Homo sapiens: one gene and its partners. The protein of the gene in region 2 interacts with the protein of the main gene of each other region in a pairwise test. Each region holds a gene or a part of one and is shown on either strand. Other genes may lie near its edges. The genes, in order: ZNF143, YJU2, MAD1L1 and GOLGA6A.

The links.
Region 1: the proteins of YJU2 (region 2) and ZNF143 interact in binary tests that used the Homo sapiens proteins (3 or more experiments, as listed by UniProt).
Region 3: the proteins of YJU2 (region 2) and MAD1L1 interact in binary tests that used the Homo sapiens proteins (3 or more experiments, as listed by UniProt).
Region 4: the proteins of YJU2 (region 2) and GOLGA6A interact in binary tests that used the Homo sapiens proteins (3 or more experiments, as listed by UniProt).

What each region holds. Positions count from the first base shown.
Region 1 is NC_000011.10:9,506,005-9,513,027, reverse strand, and holds part of ZNF143 (zinc finger protein 143), read right to left. Parts: intron 4,410-7,023; coding exon 4,182-4,409; intron 581-4,181; coding exon 432-580; intron 1-431. UniProt on the Homo sapiens protein: Transcriptional activator. Activates the gene for selenocysteine tRNA (tRNAsec). Binds to the SPH motif of small nuclear RNA (snRNA) gene promoters. Participates in efficient U6 RNA polymerase III transcription via its interaction with CHD8.
Region 2 is NC_000019.10:4,242,844-4,250,086, reverse strand, and holds the start of YJU2 (splicing factor YJU2), read right to left. Parts: upstream 3,008-7,243; 5' UTR 2,941-3,007; coding exon 2,917-2,940; intron 860-2,916; coding exon 759-859; intron 1-758.
Region 3 is NC_000007.14:2,215,935-2,222,957, reverse strand, and holds part of MAD1L1 (mitotic spindle assembly checkpoint protein MAD1), read left to right. Parts: intron 1-203; coding exon 204-383; intron 384-1,935; coding exon of another isoform or gene 1,936-2,074; intron 2,075-3,501; coding exon 3,502-3,626; intron 3,627-4,914; coding exon 4,915-4,996; intron 4,997-6,670; coding exon 6,671-6,801; intron 6,802-6,958; coding exon 6,959-7,023. UniProt on the Homo sapiens protein: Component of the spindle-assembly checkpoint that prevents the onset of anaphase until all chromosomes are properly aligned at the metaphase plate.
Region 4 is NC_000015.10:74,079,535-74,086,978, forward strand, and holds the start of GOLGA6A (golgin subfamily A member 6A), read right to left. Parts: upstream 3,017-7,444; 5' UTR 2,976-3,016; coding exon 2,892-2,975; intron 1,202-2,891; coding exon 1,082-1,201; intron 1-1,081.

The DNA of each region.
Region 1 (7,023 bases), on a different chromosome or scaffold from region 2:
AGGCTAGTTGAGTGAACTCTCATGATTCCTGATCTCTTAATGGTGCCATCATATGCTGATCACCTCAGCCAAATCTCTGTTTTCTCAATCTCACCTCCTGCATCTAATCAGCCACCAAATCCTATCCCTTTTCTGATCTGTGTTTCACATGGATCCAGTACTTTTGAAGCCCTGAGCCTCTCTGTGGCTGACCTTTATCATCTCACCTTTGAACTACACCAAGAATACCATTCGGATTCTACAGTCACAAACCTTCTCTCTCTCCTAATCTCTCTGCACGTAGTCTCTGTAAGCAGACTACTGAAAAACCTCAGGGTTTCCAAACTTTGTGCCCTGATATTTCAAAGCTTTCCTCAATGGGGACCCAGCCTGCCTTTCAAGCCCAGGTTCACAGAAAGATTTAATTTGTTTGGCTTTTGGTGGATACTTACATGCTGAGTCCCATCCTGGGATATGAGTGTAACTTGTTGACTCAGTCCAGATTGGGTTACTGTGGCTACTTGTGTAGAAACAACGTCGTCCCCTTCTACACCTGTAACATACGTAATCTGGGACCCTTTAAGAACATCTTCACCTTGACCTGTTTAAAACAAATGAATCATTTATTTGACCAACCAACCAATTTGTTTAGAAAATAGGACATTTTAAATATTAAAGAGAAAATTACATAATTAAAATGTACATGTATTATATTCTAAGTCACGAAAATGGCTTCCAGGACCTCCTTCCAATTCCTCCACCTCCACTTTTGCAAAGGCAAACTACATCAAAGCAGACCAAACAAAAAATCTTTCTGCATCAAATTTAAGTGTTCTGATTTTCAGGGACCTGTTTTATTCTCTTAGTTGGAGTAATTACTTGATACTATATGTGTATTAGGGGCGGAGAGGGGAGGAACTGTACAGGAAAACTAGCAAATAACCCTTCAAATACAGCAAGTATGCACTAAATTCTCGCATTCACTTAAGAGGCTGTTAGGCCAGGCACGGTGGCTCATGCCTGTAATCCCAGGACTTTGGGAGGCTGAGGTGGGTGGATCACGAGGTCAGGAGATCGAGACCATCCTGGCTAACACAGTGAAACCCCGTCTCTACTAAAAATACAAAAAATTAGCTGGTCATGGTGGCGGGCGCCTGTAGTCCCAGCTGCTCGGGAGGCTGAGGCAGGAGAATGGCATGAACCCGGGAGGCAGAGGTTGCAGTGAGCCGAGATCACGCCACTGCAGTCCAGCCTGGGCGACAGAGCAAGACTCCGTCTCAAAAAAAAAAAAAAAAAAAGCTGTTAAAGGCCAGGCACAGTGGCTCACACCTGTAATCCCAGTCAGTACTTTGGGAAGCCAAGGTGGGCAGATCACCTGAGGTTGGGAGTTCGCGACCAGTCTGACCAACATGGAGAAACCACGTCTCTATTAAAAATACAAAACCAAGGCCGGGTATGGTGGCTCACACCTGTAATCCCAGCACTTTGGGAGGCCAAGGCGGGCGGATCATGAGGTCAGGAGATCGAGACCATCCTGGCTAACACGGTGAAACCCATTTCTACTAAAAATACAAAAAAAAAAAAAATAGCCGGGCATGGTGGCAGGCGCCTGTAGTCCCAGCTACTCAGGGGGCTGAGGCAGGAGAATGGTGTGAACCTAGGAGGCGGAGCTTGCAGTGAGCCGAGATTGCACCACTGCACTCCAGCCTGGGCGACAGAGCAAGACTCTGTCTCAATAACAAAAACAAACAAACAAACAAAAACACAAAATTAGGCGGGCCTGGTGGAGCATGCCTGTAATACCAGCTACTCAGGAGGCTGAGGCAGGAGAAATCACTTGAACCCGGGAGGCAGGGCTTGTGGTGAGCCGAGATGGCACCATTGCACTCCAGCCTGGGCAACAAGGGCGAAACTCCGTCTCAAAAAAAAAAAAAAAAAAAAAAAAAGAAGCTGTTAAAAGTGGTTAAGACTATTTTCATTTTCATAAACATTAACCACAAAGCCAGAATGGTTTGCAAACACACCCACTGATACTAAACTTGGTCTTTAGCACAACTGATTGATTGCAAACCATCAGTACACAATGACCTCACTGTGTAAAGACAATGTATGGCATATTATCTGAGGTATGGTTAATAATTTAGTGACATAAAAGGAACCTCCATCACTTCTTTATTTCATAAAGAACCAGTAAGTAAACAGCAATTTCAACAATCCATTACTACTATAATTGTCAACCAGGAAGATTCCTGGTCCCTCTCGTCTTTCATCACTTTCTACCTCCCATGAAGTCAGAAAGAGAGCAAAAAAAAAATGTTTCCCCCTCAAAGGACATAATATGCTAATCTAAGAGTACTTCTCAATTCAGTGGTTAATCCATGCACTCATATGGCTACAGTCATCAACGTGTAATTTCCATGACAGACATTACTTCATTCCTTTTTGTTCTGTTCCACAGCTATTTATATACCATTATTCCAACAGGTTACAAAACCCAGTGGATCATGTGAGAGAAAACAGAAATCCATCCCTATTCTTGGAAAAACAATCTTAGTTTAGTTTTGTTTTTAAATAAAATGTATATTATTATATTATAGACTATTTTCTAGAATATAGGAACTTCTGGGCTGGGTACGGTGGCTCACGCCTGTAATCCCAGCACTTTGGGAGGCCGAGGTGGGCGGATCACGAGGTCAGGAGATCGAGACCATCCTGGCTAACACGGTGAAACCCCGTCTCTATTAAAAACACAAAAAATTAGCCAGGCATGGTGGCGGGCGCCTGTAGTCCCAGCTACTCAGGAAGCTGAGGCAGGAGAATGGAATGAACCCGGGAGGCGAAGCTTGCAGTGAGCCGAGATCGCACCACTGCACTCCAGCCTGGGCAACAGAGCGAGACTCCATCTCAAAAATAAAAAAAAAAAAAAAAGAATATAGGAACTTCTGATAACCTGAAATATCAACATTTAAGGAAGAGACTTGAGGAAGCTTAGAAAAAGAGTCTTGCAAACTTAAGTCTGATATCATTAAAGCCTGCTTTCTAACTAAAAAGACTCAGCAGTTGTTGTAGGATCTTCTTATTTACTTCCTTTCTCTTAGCAATTGTCAAATATACAGTACATTATTATTAACTGTAGTCACATGCTGTGCAGATCTCCAGAACTTATTCCTCCTAACTGAAACTGTACTCTTTGACCAGTATCTCCCCAATTGATGTAATATTTAACCATGCACACTTACAGTGTTCTGGCTAGAAAATAATCACCATGAAGACTGATGGAATTGCTATTAACCTACCACCACCTAACAAATACCTGAAAAGACAAATCAGGACTACAAGGAATCATCTGAGCAGATGATCTGTTCTTTCCCTTACTCTCCAACAAACCTTTTCCACCTAAATGTTTTTCAATGCTTCAATATATGTTGTTAAAAATGAAAAAAGATGTCTTCTCTTAATTTTCAAATTTACTTCATTTAGGAGGTACTCAATGAAACTGTAAGACAACTTGCTTTGTTTTGTGTTTTAGAAAAACCGACTTCCTTTTACCTACTTACCTATGCTTATTTATCTGAAATAATTCAATGTAATTCTCTAAAATATTTTTCCAAGGGTTTACTGAAACAAATAATTTTGTCTCTTACAATAACATACTTAATAGCACCTGAATCAATGAAGAGTTATTTGGGAGTACTTCTCTAGTGTTACGATTAAGACCAACATGCTTAATGGACCCAAACAGGCTGGCTGCCCCTGCCTCGCTCTCCAGCCTTGTTTCATATCACCTTCCCAGGCAGAACTGCCCTAACTGGCCAGGCTTCATTCAGTATCTCCAATTTACTTTGGTCTCTCCAACCTCCTGGCTTTCTGCATGTGCCATTCTCTCTATTTGGAACATTCTCTTGCCTTTGCTTCCTGCTTCCCTTCCCAGCAACCTCTGCTTCTTCACCCAGTTAACCCCTATTCAACCTCAAGATCTCTCCAAAAATCCCTTCCTTGACCTCCCAAACTAACATTCCCTTCTATACATCCCAGAGTACCACATACTTTTCTTCAATAGCACTTACTGCAGCTGTAAATTATGTTTATGTGATTATACGAATGACACATTAGGATTTCAGAAAATGCTATGAATCATAAATTATGTTCATAACTGTTGATTCTCAAACTCAGAAACAAAATATAGTAGACAAAACTCTCACCTGGGGGCGGCTCAAAGAAGGCTTCCTGCTCCTCCTCGATGGGCTCAGTGTCGTTGTGGGCTGTCCGTTTGTGCATGGCCAGCGTGGAGATCTGCTTGTATGTCTTCCCACAGTGGTTACAGTTGTAAGGTTTGGAATGAGTGTGGACAACATGATGTTTGTACAAACTGGAATATTCTGTAAACCTTTTGTCACACCCAGGAACTGTACAAACATATGGCTTTTCTCCTAAAGAGCAACACCAAAAAAAAGTTCAACTTTTACATATGTAGGCAAAATCATTCCATACTTCCCCCCCAGGGGGTAAAATACCTCTAAAAATAAAGAATTGCCAAACCCCTCCTCATCCCACCATGAGGCAGCACACAAGAAAAGATTCCCTAACTATGGTTTTGACTTGACTCAAAAGGTAGTATGATCCTTAGTGCTGTCTCCATGCATCAACACCAGGTTCTCCTTAATCTCAAGGAATGAGAAAAGGATGGAGATGTTGCCCAGTTTAACTCTAACTTTAATGAAACTGTAATTTGTTTCCCATAATTAGATAATCTAGATACTGTTATAGTCTATTAATAATAATAAATGCTATTATCGTAACTTATGCAGCTTCCTAAGAATTTCATAAAGATAATAAAAAAGGATTGTCTTTAAAAGTCTATTAAACCTAGTTAGATATGTCAATACAACTAAAAGGACAAACATGTTTCATTTAACTTAACCTGACTTCTTACATCCAATCAAAAGCTACTGAGTATTCACTAATAGCAAGCAGGCAATACATAGGGAAGTAAATACTTTAATTTTTGTCCCATGAAACAGCTTGAGAACATTATAGGCAGTACACATATTTTTAGAACTTTTTACTACAGAAAATTTCAAATATACACAAAAGTATAGAGAAACAGTTCCCCATGTACCAATCATCCAGCTTCAACTATCAGTTCATGACCAATATTGTTTCTTATATTTACTACCCATTTCCCCCTTCTTCCCGACCAGGATTATTCCGAAACAGTTGCAGGTAACATTCTTTTTCTTTCAGGCTGTATACCAAAAAGATGGGTCCCAGTTTAAAAAATATGTAAACAAAATTAATAATAATTACTTAATATCACAAAATATCTAGACAGTGCTAACATGTGGTGGTGTAGGGACCTAAAACTGAAAGCAAACTGGAACAAATTAACCTAATTGTTTAAATGAATACTTTTAACTACACTGAAGGGGCTGGGGTGGGGGAACAAATAAATTAATTAAAGTAGCTCATTTACACAGTATTTGACTTATGCCCTCAGTCTTGGGCTCAGTGGCGAGAGTGAGGGGAAGAATTGCAAACAAATATTCAGCTCATTTGTAGTAGGCTTGTTTACTGTAGTGGTATGGGTGAAGGGATTCTGAAACTATTTTAGATGGAATAAAAGACTGAGCAAATGAGTAAATATTTCAAATGCTGCTGGAAGGGCTCCAGCTGTGGAAAAAGGAGAATACAAATATGGAATGGGGGAAGAAAAACAAAAAGAACCCTGTGGTGAAATGGAATTGGAGGTATTGGTGTGAACTCAGATTTTTAAAATGTACATATGAAAGTGTGTATACATATGCATGTCCTGGTTTATTCTCATTCGACACATTCCTTGGGTAACTGCACCTTTCGCAGTGGTTCTAAACACAGTAAACCCCCCCAAAAATAAGATACCACACTAATGTACCGTAACATAAGTCTTACACATAAAGTAATTGGCGATTTCTTCCTGTCCTCTGCCCAGTTCCCATTCCCAAAGCAGGCAGGTTAATGTTCTTATTTTGGTGGATAGTTGCTGAGATGTGGTGAGGGCAAGAGAAAGGGCAGCCAATTTCAACTTGGAAAAATCAGCCCAATTGATATTTAGGCTAGAGCAGAAACTGCCACTAGGTGGCACCAAACCACAGCCAAGAGGCGAATGGATTTGGATTGAGCTTTTGAGCTCCCTTACTGGCTAGTTACATAGCTTCACCTGGGTCATCTGACGAGCCTTGCAAAGAAAAAAAAAGAAAAAGAAAAGAAAAAAGGACTGCATTTCACAGGTCTGAATCTTTACTCTACTGGATATTGTGACCAGTTATTGTAGCAATTACCTGATCATTAGCCAATCTTTTCTTCCAGCCCAGACCCACCTCTTAGGTCAGACCAACATTTATAACTGCATACTCTCTCTACTTCAATTATTCTCAAAACAGTCTACTAAAAGACCTGGGGAGCTTTAAATACACCCTGATGCCTGGGCCTCACCCCAGTACAATTATGTCAGAATCTTTGCAGACAGGATCTGGGCAATCAGTCTATTTTAAAGAGATACATCCAATATGCAGACTCATTTGAGAGCACTGCTCTACCTAAATGTTCCAAAGACATCAGTATGGCCAAACTTAATGTAGGCATCTCTCTTATTGAATGCTAATTTGCCCATAAAATGTGTTGAATGGCTAGCTTTCAGATAATTAGTCTGTATTCCATTGCTTTTTTCTTTTCTTTTTGAGACGGAGTCTCGCTCTGTCACCCATGCTGGAAGTGCAATGGTGTGATCTCGACTCACTGCAACCTCCACCTCCTGGATTCAAGTGATTATCCTGCCTCAGCCTCCTGAGTAGCTGGGATTACAGGCAGCTGCCACCACACCCAGCTAACTTTTGTATTTTTTGGTAGAGAATTGGTTTCGCCATGTTGGCCAGGCTGGTTTTGAACTCCTGACCTCAAGTGATCCACCCACCTTGGCCTCCCAAAGTGCTGGGATTACAGGCATGAGCTACTACTGCGCCAAGCTCTATCTATATTCCATTAATTTAAATGGGAAAAATAATGTTT
Region 2 (7,243 bases):
GAGGCCTCCCGGAGGGGTGAGATTGGAGCCATGACCTATGGCAGACAAGAGGAGCCTGCCATGTGTAAGTAGAAGGAGAAGGCCAGGTGCGGCAGCTCACGCCTGCAATCCCAGCACTTTGGGAGGCCAAGGAGGGCAGATCACCTGAGGTCAGGAGTTCGAGACCAGCTTGGCCAACATGGTAAAACACCAACTCTACTGAAAATACAAAAATTAGCCGGGCGTGGTGGTGCACGCCTGTAATCCCAGCTACTTGGGAGGCTGAGGCAGGAGAATCGCTTGAAGCCAGGAGGTGGAGGTTGCAGTGAGCTGAGATCACGCCACTGCACTCCAGCCTGGGCAACACGGCAAGACTCTGTCTCAACAAAAAAAAAAAAAGAAAGAAAGAAAGTAGAGGGAGAGAGTTCCAAGCAGGGGCAGCAGTGTGTGCAAAGGCCCTGGGGTAGGAACGAGCTTGGCTGTTGGAGGAGCTGAAATATATCTATGGGGCTGCATCTCTGTGGCGTCCTATCCTCTCTGCACACACGTTTACTAACCACCATGATCTCAAGGCAGGCACTGGCTGGAGGGCTCTAAAAGATCCAAAGCTTAATCCCAAGTGGTGAGGCGAAGGAGGGTTGGAATGGTCAATGTCTGAGCCAGGACAATGTCTAAGACCAGTGATCTGGTCTTAACACCGGACGAGTCACCTCTGTGGATGCCAGGCACTGCGTCCTTCAGCCATGACTGGTGTGTGGGGTCACGCAGGGGGTGCTCACCTCATGTTGAAGGGGGCCATCAGCCGCACCACGTACTGCCGGTCTTTGGGGAGCTTGAGTTTGGGGATCTTTGATGGGTCAAAGTCCGGCGGGTAGTATTTCTGCAGGGGAGGAAGGAAACGTTGGGGGAGTTATTTTCAGAAGCAGGGGCAGGACATGGCAGAGGGAAGGGGCTCTGGGGAGCTGTGTCGGGGGTCCCCAAGCCCACCCCAGGTTCCGCGACAGGCAGGGAGGACTCGCAGGACTCAGTACAGTCAGAGGGAGGCCAGGCACAAGCTTCCTGACTCTCTCCTAGTGGAGTTATACAGGACGCATTTAATTCTCCTAAATACCAGTCATGACAATACACATGAAATGCTGTCTACACGGGAAGCTCTAAAAAGCCAGGGTTTGTTTTTGTTTTTGTTCTGAGACGGAGTTTTGCTCTTGTTGCCCAGGCTGGAGTCCAGTGGCGCGATCTTGGCTCACTGCAACCTCCGCCTCCTGGGTTCAAGCGATTCTCCTGCCTCAGCCTCTACAGTAGCTGGGATTACAGGCGCCCACCACCACTCCCCGCTAATTTTTGTATTTTTAGTAGAGATGGGGTTTCACCATGTTGGCCAGGCTAGTCTCGAACTCCTGACCTCAGGTGATCCACCTGCCTTGGCCTCCCAAAGAGCTGGTATTACACACGTGAGCCATCATGCCCTGCCCTTTGTAGAGGTTAAGCTTTGCTTAGCACTTCTGTTGTTCAGGCAGGAGACCGAGTTCCCCGAGGAGTCCCAACTCCCCAGCAATTCTGTAGAGGGTAAACCAGGACTCTGTTAGCTCAGCCTCCCAATCACGATACTACATCCGTTTCCTACAGAGTCATCTCCCTGGATCTGAATCCTGAGGAGCTGAAACCTGCAGGGCTCAGTTTACTCCTCTGTGAAATGCGCACACTGTCCTCTGTCTCCAAGAGTCTTTGCACGCATTCCTTGAGGCAAGGGGGATAAAGTGCTCTTTGCAGTGTCTGGCACCCAGTAGGTGCTCCAAACACAAAGTGCTTTATTTTCCAGTGGTGCAGTGGAGGTATCTGTCATAATCCATACTCACACTCCCTTTGTATCCCAGGGCTCCTGTTTCCCAGGAGTTCCTACAGCAAGCCTGAGACTGCTCTCCTAGAAAGACCTGCGTGGGGCCGGGCGCGGTGGCTCACGCCTGTAATTCCAGCACTTTGGGAGTATGAGGTGGGTGGAATGCCTGAGATCAAGAGTTCAAAACCACCCTGGGCAACATGGTGAAATCTCATCTCTACTAAAATACAAAAAAAATTAACCAGGCATGGTGGCGGGCGCCTGCAGTCCCAGCTACTCAGGAGGCTGAGGCAGGAGAATCGCTTGAACCCAGGAGGCAGAAGCTGCAGTGAGCCAAGAACGTGCCACTGCACTCCAGCCTGGGAAGCAAGCGCAAAACTCCATCTCAAAAAACCAAAAAACAGAAGTGTGCCAACAGTATAGTTTATACTGAACCTCTGCTTTTCTTCTGGGAGTCTGGAATCTTGGCCACTGTCAGGCAGAGGTTATCTGCATGACCAGACCCCAGTAAAATCTTGGCCACTGTAAGGCAGAGGTTATCTGCATGACCAGACCCCAGTAAAAAAAACAAAACACACACACACACACACACACACACACACACACACACACACACACACACACACACACACACACACACACACACACACACACACACACACACACACACACACACACACACACACACGCGCCACCCCACCCCACCCCACCCAAAGTACACGATTGGTTACAGTCCCCAAGTGGGGCGGGGCTTCTCAGAGCCACGCCCCTCAAGAAGAGGGCAAAACACGGCCGCCAGCATTTAAGGAAGCCCCGCCCCCAGAAAAAAAACCCTATCTGGTGGTGATTGGGTAAAAGCCCAAGCCACGCCCCGCAGGTGACTAACTACACCCCAGCCCAGAAGGGAGACTTAGCGAAGGCCCACCCCCCCGACGGAAGGCGATGGGGAGGAGTCTAGGGAGGAGTCTGGGAAGCCCCATCTCGCGGAAGGCCGCTGGGAAAGAAGGGTTCCAAAGAAGAGATCTCAGGAAGCTCCTCCCTCTCCCGGAGTTCCGGGATGTCCTGCTCCGATTGAAAAGCCCCAGTCGCCCAACACTTACGTTTAATACTTTTCGCTCCGACATCTTTGCCTTCTGATCACCTCGCAAGCACCTGAGAAATGGTTAGGCTGGGTAATTATCGAGCTTTTCCGACGGAAGCCTTACTTCCGCAAACGTCACTTCCTTCGGCCGCTATTATTGGCTGCAGCATACACAGCAGACCTCTTTCATTGGTTCCAATCCCCGCCTATCAAGCTGGAAGTCCCAGCGTCTTCCCTCCGGAGTTGCAACCTGAGTAGCGCGAAATAAGGATTCCGGGAGCCATGTGGAATTGGAGAATTTTGTATAGTGCGCTGCGCCCCCTAGAAGCGGGCAGCGGCTCGTTAAAATTTTGTAACGTGACCTCTTGTTCTTCATTCTTTTATTCAGCAAATATGTATTATGCGCCTGCCTTGTATTCTGGGCTCTGGGAATCCACACATCGTTCCTGGGCCCGCAACTCTCACATGGGGTTGGGGCCACACATAGGGTGACTTAAGAGGACCCTGGACGACTCTTGAGTCACAGACATTGACTTAAAGATCAGGCTCCAAACCAACTTCCTAAACATACGCAGTGTCTCCCAAATGTCCCTCCATTGCCCACCTGTGCCTTCCCCTTAACGAGGACTTCCCATCCCATTCCTTCCCCAGCCTCCTTCCCCAGCCTCCTCCCCACCTTTCATGGACGTTTCCTCTGTGTCAGATTGTTCCAGGAAAGGGGTCCGGATCCAGACCCCAGGAGAGGGTTCTTGGATCTCGTGCAAGAAGGAATTCAGGGCGAGTCCACAGTGCAAAGCAAAAACAAGTTTATTTAGAAAGTAGATGAATAAAAGAATGGCTACTTCACAGACAAAGCAGCCCCAAGGGCTGGTGGTTGCCCATGTTTATGGTGATTTATTGATGATATGCTAAACAAGGGGTGGATTATTCATACCTCCCTTTTTTAGACCATATAGGGTAACTTCTTGATGTTGCTGTGGCAATTGTTTGTTTATTTATTTATCTTTTGAGGAGTCTTGCTCTGTTGCCCAGGCTGACGGGCAGTGGTGCGATCTTGGCTCACTGCAACCTCTGCCTCCAGTGGTGCGATCTTGGCTCACTGCAACCTCCACCTCAGGATTCAAGTGATTCTCCTGTCTCAACCTCCCGAGTAGCTGGGATTACAGGCACGCACCACCACACCTGCCTAATTTTTGTAGTTTTAGTAGAGATGGGGTTTCACCATTTTGGCCAGGCAGGTCTCGAACTCCTGACCTCAGGTGATCTGCTCGCCTCTGCCTCCCAAAGTGCTGGGATTACAGGCATGAGCCACTGCACCTGGCCAAAAATCAACTCCATCTTAAAATTAACAAGGCACATTCGCTGCCAGTCACGAGCCAGGGTCATAAGATGTTTACAATTGAGAAAACGTCTTACAAATGCCTAGGAGGACACACTACTACAACAATGGAAGGTCCAGATGTCCTGATATTGCATAGCAATGTATGCTTTTAAGATCGTTATAGTCGCCAGGCGCGGTGGCTCATGCCTGTAATCCCAGCACTTTGGGAGGCCAAGGAGGGTGGATCACCTGAGGTCAGGAGTTCGAGACCAGCCTGGTCACCATGGCCACCATGGTGGAACCCCATCTCTACTAAAAATACAAAAATTAGCCGGGCGTGGTGGCGGGAACCTGTAATCCCAGCTACTTGGGAGGCTGAGGCAGGAGAATTGCATGAACCCAGGAGGCTGAGGTTGCAGTGAACTGAGATCGAGATTGTGCCGCTGCCCTGTGGCCTGGGCGACAGAGTGAGACTCCATCTCAAAAAAAAAAAAAAAGAGAAAAAAAAGAAAAAGATACCGGGCATGGTGGCTTACGCCTGTAATCCCAGCACTTTGGGAGGCCGACGTGGGCGAATCACCTGAGGTCAGGAGTTCAAGACCAATCAGACCAACACGGAGAAACCCCGTCTCTACTAAAAATGCAAAATTAGCCAGGTGCGGTGGTGCAGGTCGAGAGTTCAAGACCAACCAGACCAACATGAAGAAATCTTGTCTCTACTAAAAATACAAAATTAGCCGGGCATGGTGGTGCATGCCTGTAATCCCAGCTGCTTGGGAGGCTGAGGCAGGAGAATCACTTGAACCTGGGAGGCAGAGGTTGCGGTGAGTCGATATGGCGCCATTGCACTCCAGCCTGGGTGACAAGAGTGAAACTCCATCTCAAAAAAAAAAAAAGAAAATATGGTTATAGTCATGGTGTAATGTACTTAGGCACTAAAATGGCAAGGATATGTATGTATACTTTTTGAGACAGGGTCTCGCTCTGTCACCTAGGCTGGAGTGCAGTAACGCAATCATGGCTCTCTGTGGCCTCCACTTCCCGGCTCAGGCGATCCCCCACCTCAGCCTTCCGAGTTAGCTGGAACTATAGGTACCACCACACCTGGCTAATATTTGGCAGTTTTTGTAGAGACAGGGTTTCGCCATGTTGCCCAAGCTGGTCTGGAAATCCTGGGCTGAAGTGATCTGCCGGCCTCGGCCTACCAAAGTGTTACAATTACAGGTGTGAGCCACTGCACCCAGCCAGGATAACTTTCTTTAAGTCGACAAAGTACTACGTTTTGTCACGCGGTCAGCCCACCTACACGTGGACATAGCTTTCACACAGATAAGACCCCTATATAAGAAAAAACCGGTTGTACATGGTGGCTCACACCTGTAATCCCAACACTTTGGGAGGCCGAGGTGGGAGGATCACTTGAGCTCAGGAGTTCAAGGCCAGCCTGGCCAACACGGTAAAACCTCGTCTCTACTAAAAATATAAAAATTAGCTGGGCGCAGTGGTACATGCCTGAATCCCAACTACTCAGGAGACTGAAGCAGGAGAATCGCTTGAACCTGGCAGGTGGAGGTTGCAGTGAGCCAAGATCGTGCCAAGATCGTGCCATTGTACCTGGGTGACAGAGCAAGACTCCATCTCAAAAATAAATCAATAAATAAAATAAAAATAAAAACCTTAAAACAAAGACAAGGCGTTCCTCCTCTTGTTTTCTGAGGACGCCCTACTTTGTAACTGAGTAGCCTTCCTTTTTTTTTTTTTTTTTTTTTTTTTTTGAGGAGTTTTGCTCTTGTTGCCCGGGCTGGAGTGCAATGGTACAATCTCGGCTCACCGCAACCTCCGTCTCCCAGGTTCAAGCTATTCTCCTACCTCAGCCTCCCAAGTAGCTGGGATTAAAAGCATGTGCCACCACGTCCGGCTAATTTTGTATTTTTAGTAGAGACGGGGTTTCTCCATGTTGGTCAGGCTGGTCTTGAACTCCTGAGGTGTTCAAGAGGTGATCCACCCACCTCAGCCTCCCAAAGTGCTGGGATTACAGGTGTGAGCCACCACACCCAGCTAGGGACCCCTTTTCCTGGCACCAGGAAGACAATAATATGGGACAAGGAATGGTGTTAAATAAAGTTTACAGGAAGCCATGGGTTTGGACTGAGCTCCTGCACTAGGCCCAAAAGACTAAACCAAAATGAAGTCCCTCATGCGGAAGTTTTACACCAAGCTGAAACTAAGTTGTTTTTCTGGTTTTCCAAGAAATCGAGAACTGGAAGGAAGTGGGGAGAGAGAGAGAGAGAGGGAGAGAGAGAAAGAGAGGGAATAGTCAAATCCATGAACAGAGGCAGGCAGATCACCTGAGCTCGGGAGTTCAAGACCAGCCTGGCCAACATGGCGAAACCCCGTTTCCACTAAAATACAAAAAATTAGCGGGGTGCGGTGGTGGGTGCCTGTAATCCCAGCTACTTGGGAGGCTGACTCACGAGAATTGCTTGAACCTGGGAGGCGGAGATTGCAGTGAGCCCAGATCATGCCACTGCACTCCAGCCTAGGCAACAGAACCAGATTCTGTCTCAAAAAAAAAAAAAAAAAGGCCAGGCACTGTGGCTCATGCCTGTAATCCCTGCACTTTGGGAGGCGGGTGGATAACGAGGTCAGGAGATTGAGACCATCCTGGCCAACATGGTGAAACCCTGTCTCTACTAAAAATACAAAGATTAGCTGGGCAGGGTGGCACACGCCTGTAGTCCCAGCTACTTGGGAGGCTGAGGCAGGAGAATCGCTTGAACCCGGGAGGTGGAGGCTGCAGTGAGCCAAGATTGTGCCACTACACTCCAGCCTGGGTGACAGAGCGAGACTGTCTCAAAAAAAAAAAAAAAAAAAAATCCCTGAACAGGCCTGTTTTAGCCAGCACGATAGTCTCCTTTGCTCTAAACTTGACAAGAAAAGTAACTTTGAAAAGACCAATCCACTTTTTGTTTTCTATTTCTGCTTTACTCAGCCTTTTTCTGTCTATAAAACCAACCTCTTTTTC
Region 3 (7,023 bases), on a different chromosome or scaffold from region 2:
CACCGTCATGGTGCCACAGCGGGGGTGCCAACGCTGGGGCTGGGTCCCAGGTCCCGTCCTGGTTCTGCCTATGACTTGGCTCATGGGTCCTGCTCGGCTCTTTTTTGTGCCTCGGCATGTTCTGAGAGAGGTGTGGGGGTGAGGGCTCCCCGCTGACCCTCCCGTGGGCGGCACGTGGCATCTGACTCTTGCTCTCTTAACAGCGTGAGGTCGACCGCAACCAGGAGCTCCTGACGCGCATCCGGCAGCTTCAGGAGCGGGAGGCCGGGGCGGAGGAGAAGATGCAGGAGCAGCTGGAGCGCAACAGGCAGTGTCAGCAGAACTTGGATGCTGCCAGCAAGAGGCTGCGTGAGAAAGAGGACAGTCTGGCCCAGGCTGGCGAGGTGAGCGGGGCCTCTGCTGCGCAGGGAGCTGTTTTCCCGAGGAGAGGGAGTGCATGCTCTTGTTTGCCACTGCAGTGCCCGCTTGTGTTTTCACTTGTGCTTCCCACACGGGCAGCTGCGTTTTGTACATAGTTGTCATCAGTAGAAGTATTAATTTTCCATTCTGTAGTTTTCAGTTAAAAAGTTGAGACTTTGGGCCGGGCGCGGTGGCTCACGCCTGTAATCCCAGCACTTTGGGAGGCCGAGGTGGGTGTATCATCTGAGGTTGGGAGTTGGAGACCAGCCTGACCAACATGGTGAAACCCCATCTCTACTAAAAATACAAAAATTAGCCATGCGTGGTGGTGCGCACCTGTAGTCCCAGCCTGTGGGACTCGGGAGGCTGAGGCAGGAGAATCGCTTGAACCCAGGAGGTGGAGGTTGCAGTGAGCTCAGATCACACCATTGCACTCCAGCCTGGGCAACACAGCAAGACTCTGTCTCAAAAAAAAAAAAAAAAGTTAAGCACTTTTTTGCCTTTGTAATTATGAATTTAAATGGATGATGAATCTGTTTTTTGTTGTTTGTGGACGTTTAGTGTGTTTGTGTTCGCTCATGTATGTATGCGACAGGTAGCCCTTCCCTCAGCCCTCGCTTCTGTTGACTTTGGACAGACCCCTAGGACTGGGTTATAAGGTCCCTAGCGATGGCGGTCTCTGCAGCCGTTGTGCTCAGAGGCCTGGCTGAGGGCTCCAATTTCCCCGTAGCCTTCCCTGTCGTGGATGGTGGTCTTTTCTGGAAATAGCTGTTGTTTTGTCAGGAGGCTTAAGGAGGCACGTCTGGATTTGCATATCTTTGACTGTCTGCAAGGTCTACAGGCATCTGATGGCGTCGGATAATTGCCTCTGAACTGGAGCCTGTGTGAACTGCAGTCCTGGTGAAGGTTGCTTGCATTTTAGAAACAGCCCAGACATGGGCACTGGTGGAAATTGGAATCTTCTGACCTCTCCTGTCCTTTGTCTGTGGCGATCAAGATCGCTGGTGCCAAGAGGAAACATGAAAATCTGCTGGTGTGGGGGTGGAGGCGTGGTAGGGGTGGGGTGGGCGTGCAGCGGGGGTCCTGGAGGGGTCCAGAAACTGGCCGCGGGTCCTTCCTGTGGCCGTGCTGGGGAGGCGTGTTCAGGCTGTTCCCCTATCTGCTTCTGGAGGGAACGTTGGCAGGAGAGGAGGCGTGATTGGCTCCCGAGAAGCTGCTCTTGCCTTGCCCATGCTCTGGGTTCCAGTTCCCATGTGCTGGGCTGTACTGGAGTTGGGCCGGGGGCTGTCCCCGCTGCCTGCGGGCACCTGTGGTTCCATGGGGGAGGGTGAGTCGTGCCGAGCACTTCATGAGGGGCAGAGGAGCAGGAGACTGCAGGAGCCGCAGGGCGGTGCCCGGTGGGGTGGGGCATAGTGAGGGGAAGATGGTGGCGCTGCAGGTGCTGCTGCTTTGGCCTGTCATGTCTAAGCCGAGGTGGCCGCTCCTCAGGGAAGCCCTCCCTGCGCACTAGGCCTTGACTGCCTTCTCCTGTCACAGGGTCCTGATTGTCACGCTCCTTACTCTGGAATTATCTTATGCGCCTCTTCCTTGCCAACTGTCCGGCGTCCCCTACAACACGGGTGACCCTGTGGGCAGGTGGGCTCGGCCCTGCATCTGGCCTTGCCCCTGGCACACGGTGCGTATTAATTGAGTTCGGAAGACCTCTGGGAGGATGTGTTTATTGTTAGTATGTTTTTAATACCTTTCTTCTTTGTTGACTCCCAGGTTGATGCTTCACTGTTGTGGTGAAGTAAACCGTACATATTGTGGGCATGTGGGGAGCACGCAGCCCCCATGCGGGCCTTCCCAGAGCGGCGTGGGGTGGACAGCGGTGATAGGCTTCAGCAGGCCCTAAGCTGGGCACGTTCTCAGGGACAGGGAAATGAGTGCTGAGGCCTCCTTGTTTGCGGAGGGTGCCGCCCAGCCAGGCCCACCCAGGTCGTTTGCTGTGTGAGTTTGCCATTGTCCTGTCCTGGGTGCGTGGTCCCCAGGGCTGACATCACGCCCGTGTGTTTCCGTGTGTTAACTTACAGTGATGCTTCTCAGGGTCTGTCCGGCTTTTCACATTGGCTCGACCCACGTGCTCTTTCTTTCTCTGAGGACACCTGGGGTTTTCTGAGCTTTTCCAGAGGGTTAGGGTCCTCAGAAGGTCGCCTGGTGGGAGTGGTCAGGAGGAAGCCTGGCGGTTCTGTCGCGTGCGGGTTCCATGATGTCAGGCAGACCTGCTGTCCTGGAGGCTGCCAGAGGGGCTGCTGGCTTTGCTCAGGGGCCGCCTCCCCAGGGGCGCTCCTGCCCGTGCCGCGTGCTCCCGTTCCAAGCGCACGGCCTCCCCAGCAGGTACCGCCCTGCCCCTTGCACAGCCTCCGTCTTTGTCCTGTTGGTTGGCCAGTGCCTTGCTGTGGTGTGAGGGCGATGTCGCTAGCAAACAGCCGTCATGGTAGCATTGGGGTGGCTAGGGAGGGATGACAGGAGCCACGGTTGGAGGGAAGACCGAAGTGATGGTGTGGCGGGTATGTGGATGTCTGATGGGACTTTGGGAGCGTGGGGCACTGGCACAGAGACTGCCAGGTGCCAGGCCTGAGAGTCCGGGCCCATCTTGGCTGGTGGAGGCTTTTGCTTCTGAAGCCGCCTCACCAAGCCTCCTTTCCAGGGCCCCTGGCTGGGGCCCGGTCTCCTCTGTCAGCTCCTGGGTGGCTTGTGGCAGGCTCTGGGCTGTGCTGCTCTGGAGCACCAGGAGGAGGGTGGGCCCTGCGTGTGAGCGTCTGCCTGACCTGCATCCTCCAGAAGGAGGTGGCTCTGCCCCCTGGCCCTCTGCTCCCCTGCTCCTCTTCCCCCTGCCCTCTGCCCCCCTTGCCCCCTTGCCATCTGCCCCCCTACCGCTCTGCCCCCCTACCCCTCTGCCCGATGCCCCTCTGCCCCCTTATTCCTCTGCCCCTCTGCCTCCTGCCCTGATTATAGCACGTGGGTGGTGTCGCCTCTCCACTCTTCTCATCTCCATGTGCAGGCTCCTTCCACGCACGGGCTCCACTCACTGAGCGGCTCTCTGGTCCCCTCTACTTTTAGACCATCAACGCACTGAAGGGGAGGATCTCGGAACTGCAGTGGAGCGTGATGGACCAGGAGATGCGGGTGAAGCGCCTGGAGTCGGAGAAGCAGGAGCTGCAGGAGCAGCTGGACCTGCAACACAAGTGGGCGGGGCCAGGGTGTGGGGTCGGGGGTCGGGTCACGTGTGGGGGCATGCGTCCCACCTCTCTCCTGGTGGCTGGGTGGGATGTGGATACACTCCCAGATGCTGTCCTAATTCACAGACACTCAAGAGGGGCAGATGCTGAGGCCTCTGGAGCCAGGACCGTGAGCCCAGAAAGTGTCCTGATGTTCCTGGAGCAGAATGGGGGCAGCAACTTCCTCCCCCTCCTTCTTAGAGAGGGCTCCTGCAGAGCCAGATTTTACTTTATTTTTTGAGACAGGGTCTCACTCTGTCGTCCAGCCTGGAGTGCAATGGTGTAATCATGGCTCACTGTAGCCTCAACCTCCTGGGCTCAAGTGATCCTCCTGCCTTAGCCTCCCGAGTAACTGGGTCTGCAAGCATGTGCAGTACACCTGGCTAATTTTTTTTTTTTTGAGATTGAGTCTCGCTGTGTCACCCAGGCTGGAGTGCAGTGGCACCATCTCGGCTCACTGCAGCCTCCGCCTCCTGGGTTCAGTGATTCTCCTGCCTCGGCCTCCTGAGTAGCTGGGATTAGTTTTGCACCTGGCTAATTTTAAAAAACGTTTTGTAGAGATGGCGGTCTCGCTTTGTAACCCAGGCTGGTCTTGAGCTCCTGGCCTCAAGCGATCCTCCTGCCTCAGCCTCCTAGAGTGCTGGGATCCCAGGCTGAGCCGCCGTACCCTGCTGAGGGCTAGGTTGAAAGGGCAGCATCATGTGCCTTGGAGGTGGAGGGGGCGTGGCTGGGAAGGGATGTCCAGGCACAGGGCTGAGCCGAGGCACAGACGTGAGAGCCTTGTCTGGAGGTGCAGTCAGGAGACTGTGGGCATCTCCTGCAGACTTGGACCCTTCCATCAGCAGATGTGGTTTTAGGAGAGTTCTAGTTCCGTAGTAGAGAGGAGAGGTCATTCCTGGGTGGGGCCCTACCGCAGCTGCACCAGGGCTGGGGGTTGCCGCAGGCAGGTGAGAGCTGTGGGTTCCACTGTTGGAGAGGTCCTTGCAGGTGGCCTGGGCTCACTACGCACCCCGTCTGAATGAGCAGACTGAGGCCTGAGAGCCAGCCCACAGGGGCTGGGGCCTGGGACCTTGGGGTACCCATGCAGTGGAGTGTGTGTTGGCGGGGGGCGGGGGGTCTGTGCCGTGGGAGGTCCTGAACCTTGGGGTGGGAATGAACGTATGTGGGTCTGTGCTGGGGCGGGTCTCAGGCTGAGGAGAATTGTTGGCCTTGCCGCATGCCTGTTTCTGTGTGTGATGTATTTTTCTTTCAATAGAAAATGCCAGGAAGCCAATCAGAAAATCCAGGAACTCCAGGCCAGCCAAGAAGCAAGAGCAGACCACGAGCAGCAGATTAAGGTGAGTCACTCCCTGTCAGTGCCTTGTGGACATCCCTGTGGTGGCCTTGACTCTCCTGCCCCTGTCGGCCTTTCTGCGCTGGTGCCGAGCTCCGTGGTCCTTCTGTGAGGTTAGCTGCTGCCCTGTGTGTTGGGCACTGTGCTGGGCACCAGGGATGCCATGGTGAATGAGGCAGATGCTTCCGCTCTTGGGAGCGTGTATTCTAGAGGAGGGAGACTGACCACAAACACCAAGAGAAAATGTCCGTGTGTGTGATGACGTCAAGTGCTGATGAGCGTGAGAAGATGCTACAGGCATAGAGAGGTTGAGAAAGCTGCCCACAGTTGCACAGCTGGAGCTGGGTCTCAGTCAGGGCATCTGACTCAAGCTCAGGCTGTGCCATTTCCCTGCGGAGGACGTGCCAGGGAGACGTTGACTCCAGATCCCTCTCCTGCCTCCTGTTGCCTGGAGAGCAGCCTCCAGACCCTGTGCTCTGGCCGTGCCCTCTCAGCCCTTATGCACCCTCACCTCCAGGCTTCACACCAGCTCTTCCTGGCTGCAGAGCTGCCCGGCACCCCCAGCCTGGCCTCTGCCATGTCCGCTCCTGGTGGTGGTCCCTGGCCCCTCGCAGCCCTCAGTCCACCTCTCAGGATTTTCTGGCTGGCAGGGCGATGGACTCTGTTAGTGTTTGTTGAATGACCGTCTGGTTTGGTCGTGGTTTCATACTCTGCCTGTTCAGTGACTTGCTGCTCACAGATGCCAGCTGTCTGTGTCCCAAGGGGACTGGGTACCGTAGGGAAAAGCCTGTCCTCACTATTGGAAAGACTGAGCTGTCACACGTGCTGCTAGAGTGGCAGAAGTGGGCTTGACACGGGAGGGGTGGGATGTTTTACCATGGAGTGCCATCCTGGACCAGACTTGAGACAGACTTTTGCTCCTGGAGAGCTCCCCGAGGGCAGGTGGTGAGCACAGCAGCCCGGCAGTGTGCAGTGTGAATGCCAGCTCCCAGTACGCGGAGGGCTGGGAGGTCGGCGCTGGGAAGAGCTGCCCTGGAGTGGATGCTGAGGCTCAGTATTGGAAGCAGCTTCGAGGCCCCTGGTGCAGCCCAGGAAGGCCTCCCACAGGAGAGTCCTGAGGCATGGAGGCTGCTGAGGACCTGGGGCAGTTTAGCGAAGGAACTTTGTGACCTCAATGACTTTAATTTTTAATGGATGGTATTTTCTAGAGCAATTTTAGGTTCACAGCAAAATGAGCAGAAGGTAAAGCTCCTGTGTACCCCCTGCGCCCGCTCCTACACACACAGCCTACCCTGGTAGAGTGGAGCACGTGTGACGGTGATGAACCTGCCTGGACACATCAGTGTCACGCAGAGTCCACGGGTCATGCGAGGGTCACTCTTGGAGTGGGACAGTGTATGGTTCGGGCAGATGTAAAATGTTCTATATTTGCCATTAGAGTGTCACACAGAAAAGTTTTACTGCCTAAAAATCCTCTCTGCTCCCCCAGTCAATCCCTGCCTCTCTCCTTCTGAGCCCTTGACAACCCCTTCCTTTCCCAGAACGTCCTGTGGTTGGATCCTGCAGTGTGTATAGCCGTTGCAGACCGGCTTCCTTCTCTTAGCCGTGTGCGTGTGATTTTCTCCAGGTCTCTTCGTGGCTCATTTTTCCCTTCTTCTCTGTCCCTGGCCTCCATCAGGATCTGGAGCAGAAGCTGTCCCTGCAAGAGCAGGATGCAGCGATTGTGAAGAACATGAAGTCTGAGCTGGTACGGCTCCCTAGGCTGGAACGGGAGCTGAAGCAGCTGCGGGAGGAGAGCGCGCACCTGCGGTGAGGGGTTGCGGGGGATGGGGCAGCCGCCTCGAGTGAGTCTGGGTTTGTGCACATGGAGCCCACTGTGCAGACCCTGTAGGGGCAGGGCTCCCGGGCTCTTGGCCTTATCCCTAGGGTGTGTGGCTATTTGAGCGACTCTTTGTGGCACTGCCAGGGAGATGAGAGAGACCAACGGGCTGCTCCAGGAAGAGCTGGAAGGGCTGCAGAGGAAGCTGGGGC
Region 4 (7,444 bases), on a different chromosome or scaffold from region 2:
AGCCAGAGAGGGGTCTTGGCACTGCCTCACCTTCCACTTGTCCAATGGGGGAGCACTACCCCATTGGAGTGGTTAAGGTTGGACACCCGCACCTTCAGAATGTCCTGAATCTACAGGAGGTGACAAGGGAAAAACAAGGGCAGGGGGTGAAAGACAGAAGTGGCTTAGAGAGAAGCAAGAAAGTCAGGGTAGGAGGAAGATGTGGGTTCAGGAAAAGGAAACGCTGAAGAAGAGCAGAGGAGATTAAAACCATGGCCTGTGCCATTCTTCCAAATGGCCACCTGCTGCCTTGCCAGGGGCAGGAAAAAATAGATGGAAAAGTCCCCCGAGTGACGCAGTCACAGAGTGGAGTCAGCTGACCAATGCAGATCTTAATACGCTCACTGGACCCCTCTCCTCAGGCCCAGGACATGGGCGATGAATCTGGTAGAGCTCCAGACCTCCACCTCCATTAAAAAAAAACAGACTCCTGAGTAAGAGTTCACTTGAACTAAGGGGACTTCAGCTAAAAAACAAGTTTGAAAGACACTGATCTTATCCAGTATCATCTTACAGAGGAGGAAACTGAGGCCCAGCAGAAGAAGTGATTTTTCTGTGGTCACCCAGCAAGCTGGTGGCAAGTTAGACCTTCTCTTGCTCCTAGTGCCTTGGGCTCTCCTCACCACACCCTGGGCCCCCTTCAGTGACTCCTAGAGGGACAGCCTGATGGCAAGTGGCTGTACTCATTAGCCCAGCTTCCCCTTGCGAGTGGGGATCAGGAAAATCAAACAGCAATGACCATTTCCTGGGTATCCTGGGTGTTTACAGCAGGCCACGTACTGGGGGTTAACATGAAAACAACAACAATAAGGAATCTCATTTAAACTTCACAAATGGAAGTCAAACAATACTACCCCTATTTTACAGATGTGAAAAGAGAGGCCCAAAGAGCTCAAGCAACTTGCCATAAATCAGATCGCTAGCAGATGAAGAAGCAGGATTCAAACCCAGAATTCTTAACCAGTACCCAGCAATCTCAACAATTACCCTCTACTGCCCCTTGGGCCCCCTGTCCCCAGGAGCCTGGCCAGCCAAGACTCACATCCCCAGGTGAGTGGCAACCACCGGAAGTGGTTGTCTCAGGGCTACTGTCAGTTTTTTTCTTTTTTGTCTTTGCTCCTGCTGGAATACCAGGGCTCTTCCTTTGCTGATATTCTTTTAGCTGTGGGAAAGAAGAGCAGTAATACTCATGAGAACTACCAGCCCTTACAGCCACACCCTCCTTACAGTTTTTGCAAAATACTCTTATACACCATCTGATTTAATGCCACCAACAACTGTACAAGGTGTTGTCACAATCACTTAAGTGACTGAGAGGGATGGATATTATGGCTAAAAAAAAAAGTGTGGGGGGGCAATAATGGAACTTAAACTCAGTCTTCTGACTCCAAGCTCTGGGGTTTTGCCATGAATCAGCAGCTGCCGGGGACCAAAACCAGACGCAGAGGTAGAAAAGTAAACATTACATAGGCATGAACTACACGCTGTGTGGTTTAGAGTCATACATCCTCAAATGCCTGTTAGTGTGAAGAAGTGCACCAGTATCTCTCAAACTTTTATATCAATGTGTCCTCATGGCAGAAGGCAGCTTTTTTGTTAAATCTGGGAATTTATCAGAAAGAGGACAACCCAAGTCTCATTTCAGAGAGAAGTCTGGTATACTCTTAGAAACCTATGTGAGGGTCACCCCTAAGTACATTAATGTTTTTTCTCTCTCAAGAGAATCAAGGGAAACTGATGCTTCAGAAAGATCTCCCACATTTATCCTGTGGCACTCAATGTACCCTAAGTTGAGATGATATGAGGAAGATTCAAGCTGTCAAGTTCAGTTTCCCAAGACCTATTCCACAGAAGATGAGCAAATCTCACTTCAGAGACCACTGACTGAAGGGCAGTCTGGTCCCAGAACCGTGGAGAATTAGAATATGAGGTGGAGAACTCGGAAAAAAATGTTAAAGTCTCTCTGGAGAGTAGAAGCCTGGGAGAAAACCAAACCAAACCCATTCTCCCATTACCACCCAGAGATACTGTCAACGTTTTGAGCTCACAGGGGAAGTGTAGGCTTTTCACACTGTCGATGTCTATGTGAAGGGAGTAAGGCAGCCTGAAACCTCTTGCTCCTAGGTCCCATGGTCCCCATTTCCCTTCTAGCTGGAAATTTGTGCTGTGACCAGAGGAACCAGAAATGGGGTGAGAATGCTTAGGGGACTGGGTTATAAGATCAAAGGCCGGTCTTGCAGCAGTAATGACAGTTCCTAGGAGGACTGTGACATCACTACATTCCACTCCTCCTGGGGGTGGGGGAAACCTCATCAGTGCAATGGCTGAGTTGCCGATCCACGATGGGGGAGGGGGGACGTGGGGCTGGGACCCAGGTCCTTGGAGATGCCAGTCCAGAGAGCCCAGGGAGGTCGGGCTTGGGTCAGCAGGAGGGGAGAGCAGAGTCTGCTCAGGGAACCCCAGGAGTCACCAGCCCAAAGTCACCCCGGGATGACTGGCGATGCTGGGGGGTTGGGGCTGGGGGACCCAGGTCCTTGGAGAGGTGAGCCCAAAGAACCCAGGGAGGTTGGGCTTGGGGTGGCAGGACGTGAGGGCTGAATATGGAGCAGGTATCCCCAGTAGTCATCCGCCCAAAGTCACCGCAGGGTGATTGGCGAGGGCAGAGGCTGGGCTGCTTGCTGAAGGGGCGGGGCTGACTGACAAGACGTTGGTGGGGGGAGTCCAGAGGCGCCGGGGTAGGGGGGCCCAGCCCGGTGTGCCTCAGGAGTGGTATGGACTCTGGGAGTGGTCTTGTCATCAGAGGGGATCTCTGGCTAGGTTGGGGGGCCATGACCTTTTTCTTGGCTTTTTACCTTTTTCTTGGCTGCTGCCAATTTATTCTGTCGAGATTCTTCTAACATCATGGGGTGGGGAGGGAGGTAGGGTTGGGGCCACATCAGCGAACACCTCCAGTCACCTACAAGGCTGCTGTGTGACTGAGCCAGAGGAGGCGTAACCAGGGCCACACTAGAATGCAGAATAGGGGTGTGGCCTTAATGCTCCAATCCCATTGGTCAATGAGAAAGATGAAAGGGAAAGGAGGCGTGGCCAGGCAGCAGTGTGCCCAGAGGAACCTGTGACATCACAAGGAAAGCTGCCCATGCGACTGCTGTCCCTGCCCACTTGGGGAGAGGGGCGGGGCCTGCCTACTCCGGGAGAGGGGAGGGCTGGTTTTTGCTTTAAAATGTTAAAAATAAACTTTAAAAAAATATGTATTTATACTTTATATATATGTGTGTCAGTGTGTGTGTGTCTACATGTTCCTCCAGAGCTGTCTTCATTATCCAGCTTCTATGCATGGTCTATGATTTTGGCCTACATTTTTCATCTTCAGAGGGAGTATAAGAATTACCAGTATTACCCCAGTTAAGACACAAATCCTATAAAAATGGAAAATCCATAGCATGTTTGATGATTAATGAATGAAGTGGACTATATTATCCAACATCCCAATAAGGTAAAATAATCACAATGATTTCTCGGCTTTGGAAAAAACATTTCTCTTATTCTCCTACATTATTAAGATTTTTTAAAAAACAAGAAACATGTCTAATATCTTTAAAAACACAAAGCTTTTGGGCCGGGTGTGGTGGCTCACACCTGTAATCCCAGCACTTTGGGAGGCCTAGGTGGGTGGATCACCTTAGGTCAGGAGTTCAAGACCAGCCTGGCCAACATGGTGAAACCCTGTCTCTACTCGAAATACAAAAACTAGCCAGGTGTGGTGGTGGGTACCCGTAATCCCAGCTACTGGGGAGGCTGAGGCAGGAGAATCACTTGAACCCGGGAGGCGGAAGTTGCAGTGAGCCAAGGTCACGCCACTGCACTCCAGCCTGGGTGACAGACTGAGACTCCATCTCAAAAAAATAAAATAAAATAGTCAAAAATAAATAAAAACACAAAGCTTTCCATTTAATAAGCACTCAAAGCTCTTTACTGGTTTAAAGCAAATACAAGGCCTATTTTTCTAGAATCACCTGGCCTCTCTAAGCCTTGCAAATGAAACTGAATTTCTCACTTGATACTTGGCTATGACTTGCAATCATGAAAACCAAGAATTGTGTTATGTCACTGTGTATTGATTGTTACCTGAATTCCACACTAGGCTGGGATCAAGGGTTGAATCTTTCATGATTTGCTCCATAACCTGTGAGCGTCTTTTCCTACACCAAACTAAGCTTTGTTCTAGAGTTCTACAATTTACAGTTAGTAGACAAGAGTGGTTCTCAAAAATGTAGTCTCTGGACTAGCAGCAGCAGCAGAACCTGAGAACCTTTTATAAGTGCAAATTCTCAGGCCCCACCCTGGACATGGTGAATCAGAAACTCTGGAGTAGGGCTCAGCAATCTGTGCTGCAGTCATCCCTCCAGGTGTTCAAGAACCTCTGGCATACAGCAGGCAGAAAAATGTGTTTCCTTCTGTAGGTCCAAAGCCAGGGATACCATATGTTCTGTCTTGATATGAAACAATGGCATGCAATTAAAAGACATAAATCTCCTTCCTGCTCCCACCCTCCATCCAATGTGTTTTATTTTTATGAGTTAAATAAGAAAACAAACGGCAATCAGAGATTCAGCCTAAAAAGTATGTTTACAAGTGTCAGTTCTCATCCAGCCTGATCTCACACAATACCATTTACACCCTCTTCCCTCTCAGGTTTTTTAAAAAGTGTCTTCACAATGTAAGTCTCGGGCACACTAGCAGTTCTATAATAAAACACCAAGTAGATCAGAATGTCCAAACTTACTAGAGAAGAAAAGTGGAATCACTGGCTGTATTTTCAAGTTGCATTCAACAGGAAATGTAAGTTTTTCATTCTTTTCACCTTCACACTTCAATAGCATTAAATCAGAATACTCCATTCTTCCAAAGCCTCTAGCCAGGCAAAGTTTTACTGTATTACTTCTTGCTTTCAATAGATATAAAGCAGAGTCCTGGTAGGCACATTTTGTATGCCTGCAAAGATGCAGAAGTAAACAGTTCCATCTATTCAATATTAAAACAAAAGTCCTGCAAACCTCGGATGGTGAGTGTAATACTTCAGCACTAGCACCAAAGCCTCAAATATAAACAGATACCAATATCACCACTAGCAAACAAAATGAGCCCTCGGCCAGGAGCAGTAGTTCACACCTGTAATCCCAACACTTTGGCAAGCCAAGGTGGGAGGATCACTTTAAGTCAGGAGTTCAAGACCAGCCTGGGCAGCATAGTGAATTCACATCTCTACAAAAAATCTTAAAAATTAGCTGGGGGTGGTGGCACACACCTGTAGTCCTAGCTACTTGGAAGGCTGATGTATGAAAACTGCTTCAGCTCAGGAGTACGACGCTGTGGTAGCTATGATCATGCCACTGCACTCCAGCCTGGGTGACAGAGCAAGATCTAGATAATTACAGTCTGTCCTGCTCCTGTTTATGTTAAAATGCTTTCAATCAGCAGGATAAAAATTAAGTGAAATGTGACTTGGGAGCTTGGCCAGAAAATAGGCAATGGAGAAACAGGCACTTCCCACAAGAATAAAAATGGCCAATAAGCACATAAAAATGATTCAAGGCCAGGGCCGTGGCTCACGCCTGTAATCCCAGCACTTTAGGAGGCCGAGGTGGGTGGATCACCTGAGGTCAAGAGTTTGAGACGGGCCTGACCAACATGGTGAAATCCCATCTCTACTAAAAAATACAAAAATTAGCCAGGCATGGCGGTGGGCACCTGTAATCCCAGCTACTCGGGAAGCTGAGGCAGGAGAATCGCTTGAACCCAGGAGGCAGAGGTTGCAGTTATCCGAGATTGCACTGTTGCACACCAGCCTGAGCCATAGAGCAAGACTCCATCTCAAAAAAAAAAAAAAGTTTCAAAAGCACTAGAAACCAAAGAAATACAATGAAAACAATGAGATTTTCTCCTTAAATATCAGCAAAGAGGACAAATGGAAACGGGATACTGGAGCTCTGCCCCTGTTGGGAGTATAAACTGAACCAATTTTTCTGCAGGATAATTTGAAAATTTCTATTAAAAATCTTAAAACTATTTTATGTTATTTTTCTCCAGAAATTCTACTTCTATGACTTCAGCCCCAAAATGCTTGCTTGCGTCCATTAAAATATATATATAAGAAAATTTACTTCTGGGGTGGCAATGATTAACTTAATACACATCGAGCTTTTAAAAAGATGATGCCAAGGATATATTTACTGCCATAGAAATATGCCCAAAACATAGTGACAAAAGACTATATATTACGATTCTACTTTTTAAAATGTTCATATGCATAAAAAAATATAAAAAGCAACAAACCAGAATGCTTTCAGTGGCAAAATTAAAGACTTTTCTTCATATTTTGTCTTCCAAATTATTACAAAAAGAATGCAATTTTCTTTATAATCAGGGAGAAGTATTATTTTCATTTATTTACATATAAATTTCTTTTCTTTTCCTTATTTCTTCTAATGTATGTATCACATGTACCCTAAGAGCTTGAATCCCTACTTCTTGAGGTAAATCAGACCATTTCTGTCTCTATCAACTTGCCTTTTTTGGACATTTCAAATCAACAGAATTATACAATATGTGGTCACATGTCTGGCTTTTTACTTAGCTAAGGTTTTTGAGGTTGGTCCATGACATATAACAGGTTTTGGTAGTTTGTTCCTTTCATTACTGAGTAGAAGTCCATTGATGGATATATACCACATTTTGTCAGCAGAGAACATTTAAACTTTGCTTTCAACTTCCCGTGGTCTAAATGAAACCGCTGGAACACAGGACTTACAGTGAAACCTGCTGTGCATGTCAAAAGAACTACTTATCAGAACCAGCTTTGTCATCAGGAGCCTGAACTGCTGCAGAAATTTTTATCATTTTGCAACTTCCTTTTTACAAGCAGCTTTTGTGCTACTACACATCAGGACTTTTGAAGCATCTGATACATCCATCTAATAAGTATGAGCATGTGTCTGAGTGGACAAGTACAACCATCTATGCTACACTGCATATTTTTTCCTCCCCCAGACTGGACCAGGGAATCTCTCAACTTTCTAGAGTATCCTGTCTCCATTGACAAAGCTGAACAGTATTAAAGATCCTGCTGCCTTTGTTAGGCAGATTTGGAAGGGAGGCCCAACAGCAAGGGTGGAGAGGAAAAAGAGAGGGGAGCTTGTGGAACAGGAAGCCCCCTGGGGTCTGCACATGGCTCCCAGCTGTTGAGGATGTTGTGGATGGGGAAGTGCTGATGGTGTCCCGAGGCAAGCCTAGCACCTGCACTGGGCCCAGAAGGTCTTGACTTTGGCCCCTTACCCACGTTCCAGAAGTGTTTACAAGCTGGTTTTGCTTTTCTTCTTTTCCCAAATAATCATTACTTGGTAGT